3 separate regions of the Homo sapiens genome follow, and regions 2 and 3 are each reported to be linked to region 1. Evidence: microRNA targets listed by miRTarBase, many of them from high-throughput screens and not tested one by one. Region 1 holds a microRNA gene; each other region holds the end of a gene's coding sequence.

The links. The annotated mature microRNA hsa-miR-637 reads ACUGGGGGCUUUCGGGCUCUGCGU and lies in region 1 at 2,034-2,057, opposite strand. An mRNA with a match to its seed (bases 2 to 7 or 8) in the 3' UTR can be bound and repressed. Matches are read on the target gene's strand: a 7mer-m8 pairs with bases 2 to 8, a 7mer-A1 pairs with bases 2 to 7 and ends in A, and an 8mer does both.
Region 2: the mRNA of NCKAP5L is a reported target of hsa-miR-637. Seed matches in the 3' UTR shown: 7mer-m8 at 3,123-3,129 and 7mer-m8 at 3,116-3,122.
Region 3: miRTarBase lists CBX6 as a target of hsa-miR-637. Seed matches in the 3' UTR shown: 7mer-m8 at 3,379-3,385, 7mer-m8 at 1,663-1,669 and 7mer-m8 at 326-332.

The regions. Positions count from the first base shown.
Region 1 is chr19:3,959,396-3,963,459 of GRCh38, forward strand. MIR637 (microRNA 637) reads right to left here and starts at 2,117; the gene lies at 2,019-2,117. DAPK3 (death associated protein kinase 3) reads right to left here. Exons shown (of 9, transcript NM_001348.3): 7 at 1,614-1,766; 8 at 664-709; 9 at 1-242.
Region 2 is chr12:49,788,134-49,792,190 of GRCh38, forward strand. NCKAP5L (NCK associated protein 5 like) reads right to left here. Exons shown (of 13, transcript NM_001037806.4): 13 at 3,019-3,918. The coding sequence ends at 3,706. Among named protein-coding and RNA genes, the nearest start is that of NCKAP5L, 38 kb to the right of the region's middle. RefSeq lists an enhancer at 2,614-3,456.
Region 3 is chr22:38,862,748-38,866,804 of GRCh38, forward strand. CBX6 (chromobox 6) reads right to left here. Exons shown (of 5, transcript NM_014292.5): 5 at 1-4,057. The coding sequence ends at 3,462. Among named protein-coding and RNA genes, the nearest start is that of CBX6, 7.4 kb to the right of the region's middle. RefSeq lists enhancers at 1,305-2,184, 2,185-3,062, 3,181-3,992.

The DNA.
Region 1 (4,064 bases):
GCCAGCGCCTCCACGTCCTCGTGGCAGAGCCGCCGGCTGCGCTGCAGCTCGCGCAGGCCCTCCTCGGCGGCCGCCGCCTCCTCCAGCACCTTGGAGAAGCGCTCGAAGTCGGCGTAGCTGTTGTTGGGCGGCAAGCTGGAGTGCGACTTGATGGTGTACTCCTTCAGACGCGTGGTCTTCAGGCGCCGCCGCTCGGGCTTGCGGCCGCTGTCCTCACCACGCACGTTCCGCCGCCGGATCGCCTAGGAAGGAGGGAAGCCTGAGCGGGGTCCCCGCGATGCCACCCAGCCCCGCCAGCCCCCACCTGCCAGTGTGAACTGAGGTTCAGGGGCTCATCCGGCAGCAGAGTCAACGCCTCGTGACGGAGACTGCCCAGCCCGACGCAAAGCCGAGAGTGCTCTCTCGAGAAAAACGCTGCGGCCCTGGCCCCAGGAGTCAGCCCCGTTGGACACACACCAGCCAAGGATGCCACCAGGTCTGTCGGGTGCTGGACATCCCACGCCCAGGACCCAACCCCCGCCACACAGGCTCACTCCTCTGGGGACCCTCCCCAGCCACTGGGGGTTGTCACATCCACAAGCCTTAAATGCTGAAGGCCCCCCGGGACCCCAGCGAGAAGGCCAAGGCGGGAAGCCCAGGGAGCTCCCCCACCTCCCCACTTACCTTAATCCAGGAATGTTCCAGGCTCTGGGCAATGGTCATTCTCCGCCTGGAAGACCCCCGCTCTGGTTAGGTACACCTGCACCATCTGTCCCGTCCTCCCGTGAACAACTGACTCCCGGGACCCCCAAAAGCCCTAAAGTCGCCCCCCAGCCTCTGCTCAGCCAACCACAGAAGCTGAACAAGGGTACTGCAGGGAGCGTGGGGTTTTCTGGGGGGTGGTGGAGAGAGCTGAGACCTCAGGCTGGAGTCGCAAACCCAGGCGCCCGAGAGAGGGACTGGGCGGCCATGGAGGCCCGGGGAGGCCTACGAGTGAGGGCTCAGCACTGCCAGAATTCTAAGTGTTTACAGGAAAACAAGTGACCTGGAATTTTACATGGATCCTTACTTTACACACCGGCAACTAATTAAAAGTTTGCTAAAAACACAGCAAGCAGCCAGACACGGTGTCTCACGCCCGCAATCCCAGCACTTTGGGAGACCAAGGCAGGCAAATCACAAACCAAGGAGGTCAGGAGTTCAAGACAAGCCTGGGCAACATGGTGAAGCCCTGTCTCTACTAAAAATACAAAAATTAGCCAGGCGTGGTGGCGGGCGTCTATAATCCCAGCTACTTGGGAGGCTAACGCAGGAGAATAGCCTGAACCCGGGAGGCAGAGGCTGCAGTGAGCCGAGATCACGCCACTGCACTGCACTCCAGCCTGGGAGACAGAGCAAGACTCCGTCTCAAAAAAAAAGACTCCGTCTCAAAAAAAAAAAAAAAAAAAAACCATGGCAATGGCCAGCTTGGGCCACCAGTTTATCAGTTTACTCTCTCCAGCCCAAGGGGTAAGCAATGTCTGATCCCCAGCCGCAGGGAGGTGGCGCTGGGAGGAGAGTCCTCTGGAGCCTCCGTGGGTGGAGTGGGCCTGTGTCCCATGTCCCACCCCGTGCCCCCTGCCGGCCCCTCGTACTTGGGATCTTTGACGAGCAGCCGGCGAATGAAGTCCTTGGCCAGCTCGCTGGTGTTGCTGAAGTACTCCTCGTCGAAGTCGTAGTTCACGGCTGAGATGTTGGTGAGCGTCTCCTGCTTGGTCTCGCCCAGGAACGGGGATGCACCGCTCAGGCTGCGAGACAGGCGTGGGGGCTCAGTGGGGTCCTGGGCTCCCACCACGGCCGCGCCGCCTCTCCGGCTGCCCACGACAGGCGGAGCACAGAAGACAGGCTGACGGCAGGTGCCTGGGCCACTCACACTCCTGAGCCCTTAGAACCTTCCTGCAACGATCCCAGACACCACCCAAGAGGCATTCAAAATCCACCCCCCCACCCCGCCACTGACAGCAGCAGAAATGAACAGGCAGAAGTCTCCTTGGAGACTCGAAGTATCTGTGCAGACGCAGAGCCCGAAAGCCCCCAGTGCTCAGTAACGCCGAGGGGAGGGTAACTGCAGTGGGGAGCCCGAGCCAACACCTTAGCCAAAGGATCAAGGTCAACAGCCCGGCAGTGAGAGGCCCCAACAGCGTCTGCCTCCCAGCCTGACGCTGGGAGGGTGACACAGCATCATCCCTGGGGTTTTGAGCAGAGACACTGAAGCCCCGTCTGATCGTCTGATCGTGACAGCGCACGAGACTAAACGTGGACTCAGACGCCTTCTGCAAAACACCTGACCCGTGAGCACAAGTCAGGGTCAAGGTCATGAAAGCCAGACAGAGGAACAGCCTCAGACTGGAGGCGGCGAAGGAGCTGAATGGCTAAATGCCGTGTGGGGACCTCAGAGAGGACAGGAGTGGAAAACGGGGGTGTCTAACCACCTCTGGCACTTTAAATTTTTTAAATTTTTTAGAGACGGAGTCTCGCTCTGTCACCCAGGCTGGAGTGCAGTAGCGCGATCTCGGCTCACTGCAAACTCCATCTCCTGGGTTCATGCCATTCTCCTGCCTCAGCCTCCTGAGTAGCTGGGACTACAGGCACCCGCTGCCACACCCAGCTAATTTTTGTATTTTTAGTAGAGACATGGTTTCATCGTGTTAGCCAGGATGGTCTCAATGCCCTGACCTCGTGATCTGCCCTCCTCAGCCTCCCAAAGTGCTGAGATTACAGGCGTGAGCCATCGCACCCGGCCCATCTAGCACTTTTGTGATTAGCGTAGCACCAAGGCTAACGTCTTGGTGTTCATAACGTTCGTGTTCATGAAAAATGTAAACTGAAGGAGGAGGAAGCTGCAGGGGGCGTCTGTGCTGTTTCTGTTGCTCCTTTGTAAGTCTGAATTATCTGAACATTTAAAAAGAATACAAACGGTCTAGCCCATCTCCTGAAGCCTTTGGGTCCGCTCACGCACTACAGCGGGCTGGGCCCACGCCATTGTTTATTTCCTTGCTTACTGAATGAGCTATGCCCATTCAATATGGCTGGGCAACACAGTGAAACTCCACCTCTACAAAAACTTTTAAAAATTAGCCAGCTGGGCACGGTGGCTCACACCTGTCATCCCAGCATTCTGGGAGGCCAAGGCGGCCGGATCACTTGAGGTCTGGAGTTCAAGACCAGCCTGACCGAAATGGTGAAACATCGTCTCTACTAAAAATACAAATAATTAGCCAGGCATGGTGGCAGGCACCTGTAATCCCAGCTACTTGGGAGGCTGAGGCATGGGAATCACTTGAACCCGGGAGGCAGAGGTTGCAGTAAGCCTGAGCTGAGACGGGGCCTTGGCACTTCATCCAGCCTGGGCAACAAGAGCGAAACTCTGTCTCAAAAAAAAAAAAAAAAAAAAAAAAATTAGCCAGCTGGGTGCAGCGGCCCACGCCTGTAATCCCAGCACTTTGGGAAGCCGAGGCAGGCAGATCACCTGAGGTCAGGAGTTCAAAACCAGCCTTGATCAACATGGTGAAACCCCGTCTCTTCTAAAAATACAAAAATTAGCTGGGCATGGTGGTGGGCGCCTGTAATCCCAGCTACTCAGGAGACTGAGGCAGGAGAATCGCTTGAACCTGGGAGGTGGGGGTTGCAGTGAGCAGCTGAGATCGCACCACTGCACTCCAACCTGGACAACAAGAGCAAAACTCCATCAAAAAAAAAAAAAAGTCCGAGCATGGGAGCATGGTTGTGTGCACATGTAGTCCCAGGTACTCAGGAGGCTGAGGTGGGAGGATTGCTTAAGTCTGGGAGGTGGAGGCTGCAGTGAGCTAGGACAGCACTCCAGCCTGGGCAAGAGAGTAAGACCCCGTCTCAACAAATAAAAATAATAAACAACAGCAGGCCCACGTGTGGCCCAGGGACAGGAGCCAAAACCCAGCGTGGGGTCGGACCCCTTCCTTGCACTTCGAGAGGAGGCTGGGCTCCCTAGCAGCCAGAGGGACAGGAGCACACACGACCCCCAACCCGGAGCCTGCTCAGCCGCTCTGTGAGTGTCCTGCCTTCAGAAC
Region 2 (4,057 bases), not on the chromosome of region 1:
GTGTAAGGGTTCTATTTTCTCTACATCCTCACCAACACTTGTTTTCTTTTGTCTTTTTGATAAGAGCTATTCTAACTAGAGTGAGGTGGTATTTCATTGCAGTTTTGATTTGCATTTCCCTGATAATTAGTTATAACATTCAATTTCAATTCCTTTTTTTAAAAACCATGAACATATACTCTTTTTTTTTTTTTTGAGACAGAGTTTTGCTTTTGTTGCCCAGTCTGGAGGGCAATGGTGCAATCTTGGCTCACTGCAACCTCCGCCTCCCAAGTTCAAGTGATTCTCCTGCTTCAGCCTCCCGAATAGCTGGGATTCCAGGCATGTGCCATCACGCCTGGCTAATTTTGTATTTTTTAGTAGAGATGGGGTTTCTCCATGTTGGTCAGGCTGGTTTCGAACTCCTGACCTCAGGTGATCCACCCGCCTCGGCCTCCTAAAGTGCTGGGATTACATGCATGAGCCATTGTGCCTGGGGAACATATACTTCTATAATTTCTATTCCTTTAACAATTAAAAACCTTTTAAGGGGCCAGACACGGTGGTTCACACCTGTAATCCCAGCACTTTGGGAGGCCGAGGTGGGCAGATCACGAGGTCAGGAGATTGAGACCATTCTGGCTAAGATGGTGAAACTCCACCTCTGCTAAAAATACAAAAAATTAGCCGGGTGTGGTGGCAGGAGCCTGTAGTCCTGCCTGGGTGACAGAGAGAGACTCCGTCTCAAAAAAATAAAAAAAAAAGTTTTAAACGAGAAACAATTATTCTCTGCAGCAAACTCTAGATATATACCCTCATTCTGTAATCCTGTGTGAGTTAGTTCAAGCATATAAATAAATTACTTAAGGCCACATGAATTTGAAGTTAATACAGGTGAGCATTTCTATAGTCTCGGGAAAAAATTTTTTTTAACTTTTTTTTTTTTGAGACGGAGTCTCACTCTGTCGCCCAGGCTGGAGTGCAGTGGCGCGATCTTGGCTCACTGCAAGGCCCGCCTCCTGGGTTCAAGCAATTCTTCTGCCTCAGCCTCTGGAGTAACTGGGACTACAGGCGCGTGCCACCACGCCTGGCTAGTTTTTTGTATTTTTAGTAGAGACAGGGTTTCACTGTGTTAACCAGGATGGTATAGATCTCCTGACCTCGTGATCCACCCACCTCAGCCTCCCAAAGTGCTGGGATTACAGGCGTGAGCCACTGCACCCGGCCTTAAAACTTTTTTTGATAAAGAAAACAAAACAGGTTGGATGCAGTGGCTCACACCTGTAATCCCAGAACTTGGAGAGGCCAGGAGTTTGAGACCAGCCTGGGCAACATAGTGAGACCCCATCTCTACAAAAAAAAATTTTTTTTTTAAAGAAAACAAAGCACACTATTTGTAGAAATCTACAAAAGGGTAAAGAAGGAAAAAAAAACCCACTGGCTACCCAGAGAAAACTTGAGTTAATGTTTTTGGGACATTTCCTGCAAAAGGCAAAGTGCCCAGTGAAGTTGAACCTGAAGCCTTGTCATAATCTTTTGCTGATGCCTTGATGCCATTTTGGGGGATGGGGGAGGTGGCCTGGCAGTTTTGTCTTCCTTTGTTTGGAAAATCCAGCAGAATGGGTCTTGCACATTGCAAAGGCAAACATTCACCTATTATTCTTGGAGAAAACAGTGAATTTACCTGAATTCTGCAGGAAGATGTTGCAAACTGAGATATGAAGTGTTCTGCCTTAGTAAGGATCAAATGGTCTTTTAGCCTAACCTTTCTTTGAAGTGCAAGAAATTGATTCCCCAGGAGTGTCTTTAAACTCAACTGCATGTCCTCCTCCACAGAATCATTTTAGATAAAATACTGGGTCTGTGTGAAGGGCACACAATTATGTAGGCTGTGGGGTGGCTCATCTGGATCCAGGGTCTCTTAGCAGAATGCTGGGGGATTTAGGAAGTTTCCCACCATGGAACAGTTGGTAGGCAATGGCTGCCTCCAGGCGTCAGGTGTGACTGATGCCACCTGCCCTGCCTTGGTCAGTCAGCCCACATTGCCCTGGAAACCAAGGTGACGCCTTGTATTTGCAAACACCAGAGAATAAAGCCTAGGCAGATGGATCAGACCCTGGTGGTAAGAATGCGGATGGACCCTCTGGTCTCAGCTTGAAAGAGGTGGAGTCCTGCATCAAACCTACTATGCCAAACTCCTTCCCCAGAAGGAAATAGGAGAAATATCCTGCAGGCAAACAATTCTGTTCTAACTAGGAAATGAGGTAATCTACCAAGTTCAAGCAGAGAAGAGGGCTTGAAAAACCAAGAAATAAAAAGTGGGAAGGAGGTAGACCTCTTGAAGCCCACCTGGCAAGAAGCAGATTTACAGCTTGGTAATATTATGCTTAAGCCCATAAAAGCAGAAAAGATAGGACAGTGGGATAGGAATCTGGAAGTAGAAGACAAGAGGTAAGAAAATGGGATACTGACTTAAAAAAAAAAAAAAAAACCCAGACATCTGACTTGACACTCTCCGTCTTGTTAATTTCTTCAATGATGATATTAACTAAGAAGGGGTAGGAAGAGAATTGGGGAAGGGGTAGGAAGAGGAGAATGCTGAGAAGAAAGTCTGGCTGATGGGACCAGCTCGTCTGGATTAACTTTCTAATCTTCTATAGAGGAGGAAAACCAAGGTCTGGAGAAGAGATGCAACTCTACTCAGAGTCTGCATGTCCCCCCCAGCCTGGGACACGTGGGGCCTGAGTGCATGTCCACAGCCATCTTCCCCAGCTCCCTCTCCAAGGGGCCACCCAGCCTCGCGCCGTGCCCAAGCCCTGGCCCAGGAGAATCTCTCCGAGCCCAGATACCCTTCCGGGCCTAAGCAGGCCCTACTCTCCCAACCCTCAGTTACCTTCTGGGATGACTCCAGCCAGTTGCCCTGGTGAGGGGGCTGTGTCACAAGGGGGCCTGGGGTCCCTCAACCTGGCACCCATGCAGTGTCCCCCGACCTGGCCTGCCTGAGTCCTCCCACACAACAAGCCGACTCAGGGGCAGGGAGGGGGCCTCCACATTTTATTAGGGATACGGCAGAAGCAGAGGCAGGAAGCAGAGCAGCCGCATTTTAAACAACACATAAATTAACCGCAGTGCGGGGCTGGGGGCTGGGGGCTGGGCCAGGCGCTTCAATATATAAAAACAACAACAAAAAAGACGGACGAACAGACCCCAAAGGCATGGGGCAGAGGAGGGCAGCACCATCCAGACAGCAGGGAGGACCAGGGCAGAGAGAGAAGGCAACTTGTCCCCCTGGCCCCCAAACTCCACCAGCACGGGGGCCTCCAGGAGGGCCTCGCGAGGGCTTCGGGGCAGAGGAGCAGCCGGGTTGGGCAGAGATGGCACGGCTGGTGGGCAGGAAGCCCAGCACCACAAGATGGCTCAGCCTGAAGTAGGGACTGGAGGGCTGCGACACAGTGGCCTTTAACCCCCAGTCCCTTCCAGGAAGAGCCTTACTCTGGGTGAGAGAAGGGACCAAGGGCGGGGTCTCTCCCTGAGCTGAGCACGGTCATCTCATCCGCCGAAGCAGTGGGTGGTGGGGTGTGCCAGGGACCCCCTTTTCACCTTCTTATCCACCTGCCTCCTTGGTCCCTTCAGGGAGGGGTCCCCGTCTCCGGGGGCTGGGCATGAAGAGAGCCGGTCCAGTCTGTGGTCCCCAGCTCCAGCGGGGCCGTGGCGTGGCGCAGCCCCTCAGCCCTGACTCCCACAAGAGGACAGCGAGTCGTAGAGTGAGTCACTGAGAGACTCCGAGGTCTCCAGCCCTGGGGGGCCCCCGCTGGCCACTCTGCCTTCCTCGGCCATGTCCGAAGTGCTGGGGGTGCGGCTACCCCCGAAAGGTGGGCCCTGGGGCGTAGGGGACGGGCGGCTGGGCTCCTGGCTTCGCTTCCGGTCCACGGGCAGGGCCTGGGAAAGGAGGGGCAGCTCGGGAGGAAGCTCCTCTCCACCTTTCGGCCCAGCCTCAGAGGCACTGAGCTCTGAGGGGCGTCTGTGCACCTGATGGGGGGCTGCTCCAGAGGGGGCCCAAGGTGGGGTATACTTCAGA
Region 3 (4,057 bases), not on the chromosome of region 1:
TGGCTCTCCTCCAGGACCTCCTGGCTCAGGGGCTCGAGGCCAGTCTTGTGCTGGCTCCAGGGCCTGGGCCCTGCCTTTTAAAGGGCTTTTCCCCATAGGCCAAAGCATCCTGGGCCCCAGTCCCTGCCGCATTCCCCCAGTGAAGCAGCTGCGCTTCTCCAAAACCATTTTCACCTCTTCAAAAAGGGGCCATCCCCCCAACTCTGTCCACCTCACACTGAAGTTGGGGACTTGATCATCACCTCTTCCCAGATCATAGGAAGGATGAGGCTCATTTTGACCTTGACCCCTTTGCAGGGTGAGAACAAAGAGGGGTTGTGGGCAGCTGGGGGCCCCAGTACCAGCAACCTTGACCCCCCACCTGGTACTGGGCAGCTGCTCTGACACCAGCAGCGCTTTCTGAAGAGGGCTTGCTACCCAATACACCCATTTCACAGAAGGGCAAACTAAAGGTCAGAGTGGGCACCCAGACAGGGATGGGTCCCAACTTACCGTCTCAAACCAGAGACACCAGACCTCACCGGTTTCCTATGATACTTGGGTGGGGAGGGGGCGCACTTAAGGGGAGATGACGGATGCCCCAACCAATATTGAACGTAGGAGGAGATTGGGCTTTGGGGGTTATTTCACATACAAAAATAAAGCAAACCAGATTGCAACTTCTGCTTGGTAATTAGGCAAATGGAAAGCAGCAAGGGTGGACGAGGGGCCCATGGAGGCTGATCTCCCAAGGGAGGCCGATCCGTGCAAGTGTGTGGGAGGCGGGGGTACTAGAGAGGGGAGGAAGGAGGCTCCACTCACCCTCGGTCCCATCCACTCGGGCCCCCATGGGCACTGCCCACCTCAAGGCGGTGTGCCTGGTGCCTCTTCATGCACCAAGGCTGGCCCGGGCTGCTCCACTTGGAGCTCAGGCCAGCAGAAGCAGACCACCTGTGGCAAGGGAAATGCATTCCCTCTCCCCAGCCACCCCCAGGGGCCCAGCTTCTTGCCTCCTGAAGCCTGCATCCCCTTTCAGGCCAGGGAGGCTCAGAGAGGTTGTGGGCTTTAGGGTGACCCGTGGGGAGGGAGGTCTCCCCCATAGGGTGGCGGTGGTGGGGACCAGATGGCCCAACAACTGGGAAAGGAACAGAAGGGGGCAAGAAACCAAACTGCCCACTCACCAGCCCCCTGGAGAAAATCACCAGTGACAACCCCCACCCTCCCAAACCTCAGCTTGCCGGGACCTGCAGCTTGGGTTAGCTCCCGGGGGCCCGCTGTTGTCCTTCCCTTTGAGCAAGCACGGGTGTGGAGATCTGGGTCCAGGCCCTCTCCACAGTGCCTGCGATGCCAGGGGACCTGCCAGCTGGGCCCAGGCCTCCGCCCCATCCTGACATTGCCACCTCACCTGTGCAATCACTGCGTTACTATTTTTTCTTAAATAGCTCTTTCTCCCCCGCCACCCCCCCATAGGAATCCCACAATATTTTTTTCTATTTCTTTTTTTTTTCCTCTTTTTTTGTTTTTGTTTTTTTGCAAAACTAATTCTTTCACTTTCCTGTCATAAAATCACCTCTGAAAACACAACTTCTTTACAAAAAAGTCACGAATGACACGAACTCTCAGGAAAACACATTTCTATGGTCTCTGGAAACACCTGTAACTGGCACCCAGGTGGTCACTCACCTGGGGGAGGGGGTCAGGGGGAAATCACCTCCAAGGACAGAGGAGAAATACCAGCCCTTATTTGGGCGAAAAGCCAATTGGCACTTGGACGGCCACAAAGCCAACACACAGGGCAGGGTAGGGAGGGGCCGAGGAGTATCAGCCCCCGCCCCAACCCTGCGAGGGTCCCCGTTCTACATCCCGGGGAGGGGAGGGCTAGGGCCACGCTGTGGGCCCTGGCAGGGAGATTGGGAAGGAAGGCAGCCTCCCATTCTTAGGACCAAAGGCGCTAGGGTTCTGATCGGCCTCCTGCCAACGTGCTTCTGAGGGAGGGGCCCATGGCAGCACAGCCAGGAAGCCAGCTCCAGCCACGCCTGGAACACGCCACCCACGCACAATGGAGACCCGGGAAGTGGCCCAGGGCTGGCCAGCGGGGCCCCGGTCCCAATTCTGGGACCAACACCCTCATTCTCCTGGAGAACACAGACCCTCTGGTCTCCCCTTTGCCTGCCTGCCCTCCCAGGGCCTGGCCTAAGGCTGGGGCTGTGGCCTCTGCCACTGGCACGGGTGCCTCAGCTCCCAGGCAGCAGAGGGAAACAGAAGCTGCCCAGGACACGGGAGCCTCCTTTGCTTCAGGCAGGCTGGGCTGTGAGAAAGCCTCCGTGGTCAGAAGCAAAAGAGGGGCTGGGACAAGCCGGGAGGCCCTCGGGAATGGATTCTTCAGCATCCTCCCCAAACACCCGGAGGAAGAGGGAGCTTGGAATGGGGTCTCCCTCTCTATCTCGGTCCCCACCATGATGTGAAGTGAAGGTCCGACAGGTTGGGCTGACCACCCTGAGGAGGGCAGGGGGGTGGGGGGCACGGTGCCCCCAGCACACCTGGGCCAGGAGGGGAGGCCTGGTGACTTCCACAGCAAACCTCCAGACCCAAGCCTGGTCCCCAGGCCTACTGAGGCGAGAGGCAGTCCAGGCCTTCAATGCCCCTGTTCAAAGGAACTGTAAAGGGTGCCACCCGGCAGCCTGGGGCCTAGCACCCAATGCATGTATGAACCCACGGACAAACACAGCGAGTGGGGCAGACGCACAACTGGAAGTTTCCACGGCAGGTTCTCGTAGCACCTTTGGTCAAGAACTGAAGGGGCCTTTAGATGCGGGGAGGCTGTGGCCAGGCGCACCCTCTGCCAGTTCCTCCCACCGTTGAGGGGGTTAGGAAAGAGCCAGGGCTGGGGCAGGGCATAGGGGGTCTACTTAGGCCTCGTCCAAAATCGAGCAGGGAAGACCCCGCCCTGGCCCAACTTCTGATGCCCTGGCTGATGTGGAGGGAGGAGCCGAGTCAGGCCTCATCCTTGGCCTCTGCCTGGGACTTTGCCAAACAGGCAGGAAGCCCTCCTCCTGCCTAGGCATCTGCAGGAAGGAAAGGGACTGTGTCCACCCTCGGTGGGGGGCTCCTAAGGGCCCCACAGCTGCCAGGTTAGCACCGAGAAATCAGACGCCGCACAGGAGAGCAGGAAGCAAGCTAGAGAGACAGGTGGGATGTGGAAGGGGCAGAGGAACCCTAGTTTCTAGGGCTTTCCAGAAACCACCCAGTGGGCTACCATGCATGGGCAGGGGGTGTGCCCTTCCCCTGCCCCATTCCAGGGTGGCCCCTACCCCCGGCTTTCTGGGACCCCAACTACCCAGCCCCATCCCTGGGTCAACACCGAGCCATTTGAGACAAGCAAAGCACAGGGAGAGAGGGCTGGGGGCAAGGGTGGGGTGGGAGCAAGAGTATGACTTCGGGCAGGAGGGCCCCCCCAAGCCCCCCTCCTTGGTGGAGCCCCCTCACTTGCTCGCCCCAATGCTGCCACCGCCCCCAGCGGCGCCTGCTACCCCAGCAGCCACCTTCTCGAAATCCTCAGGGTTGCAGAATTCCTTGATTGTGACCGTCAGGAGGTTGCTGGTGACATCGGTGACGACCACATTGGAGCAGGGTGACATCTCGGGGCGCCAGTCCCCAGCCTCGGGCTCGGAGGAGGCACCGGCGGGCTCAGGGGCCGTGGGAGGTGCCGGGCCGGCAGCAGCTGTGACCTCAGGCGGTGCCCGCTTGCTGGTGGCTGCCGACTCGGGAGGGAGGGACAGGTCGAGCACCTCCGGCTCGCGCCAGCTGGGGGCGGATGGGCTCACGGTCTCGGGGAGGAGCTTGGGGGGCGTGTCGTCGGGGTCAGAGGACTGTGGTGTAGGCGAGGGGCAGCCGGAGGAGCCAGAGCTGCGGGCGTCGTAGGGGGCGGCGGGGGCGGCCAGAAGTAGCCCAGGGCCCGGGGCTGAGGCCTCAGCCTTGCCGGGGGACGGGGCTACCAGGGGGGCGGGCGGAGGCTTGTACAGCGCAAAGGCGCCGAACTTCATGTGGCGGATCTGTGTACGCAGGACGCTCTCGCTGA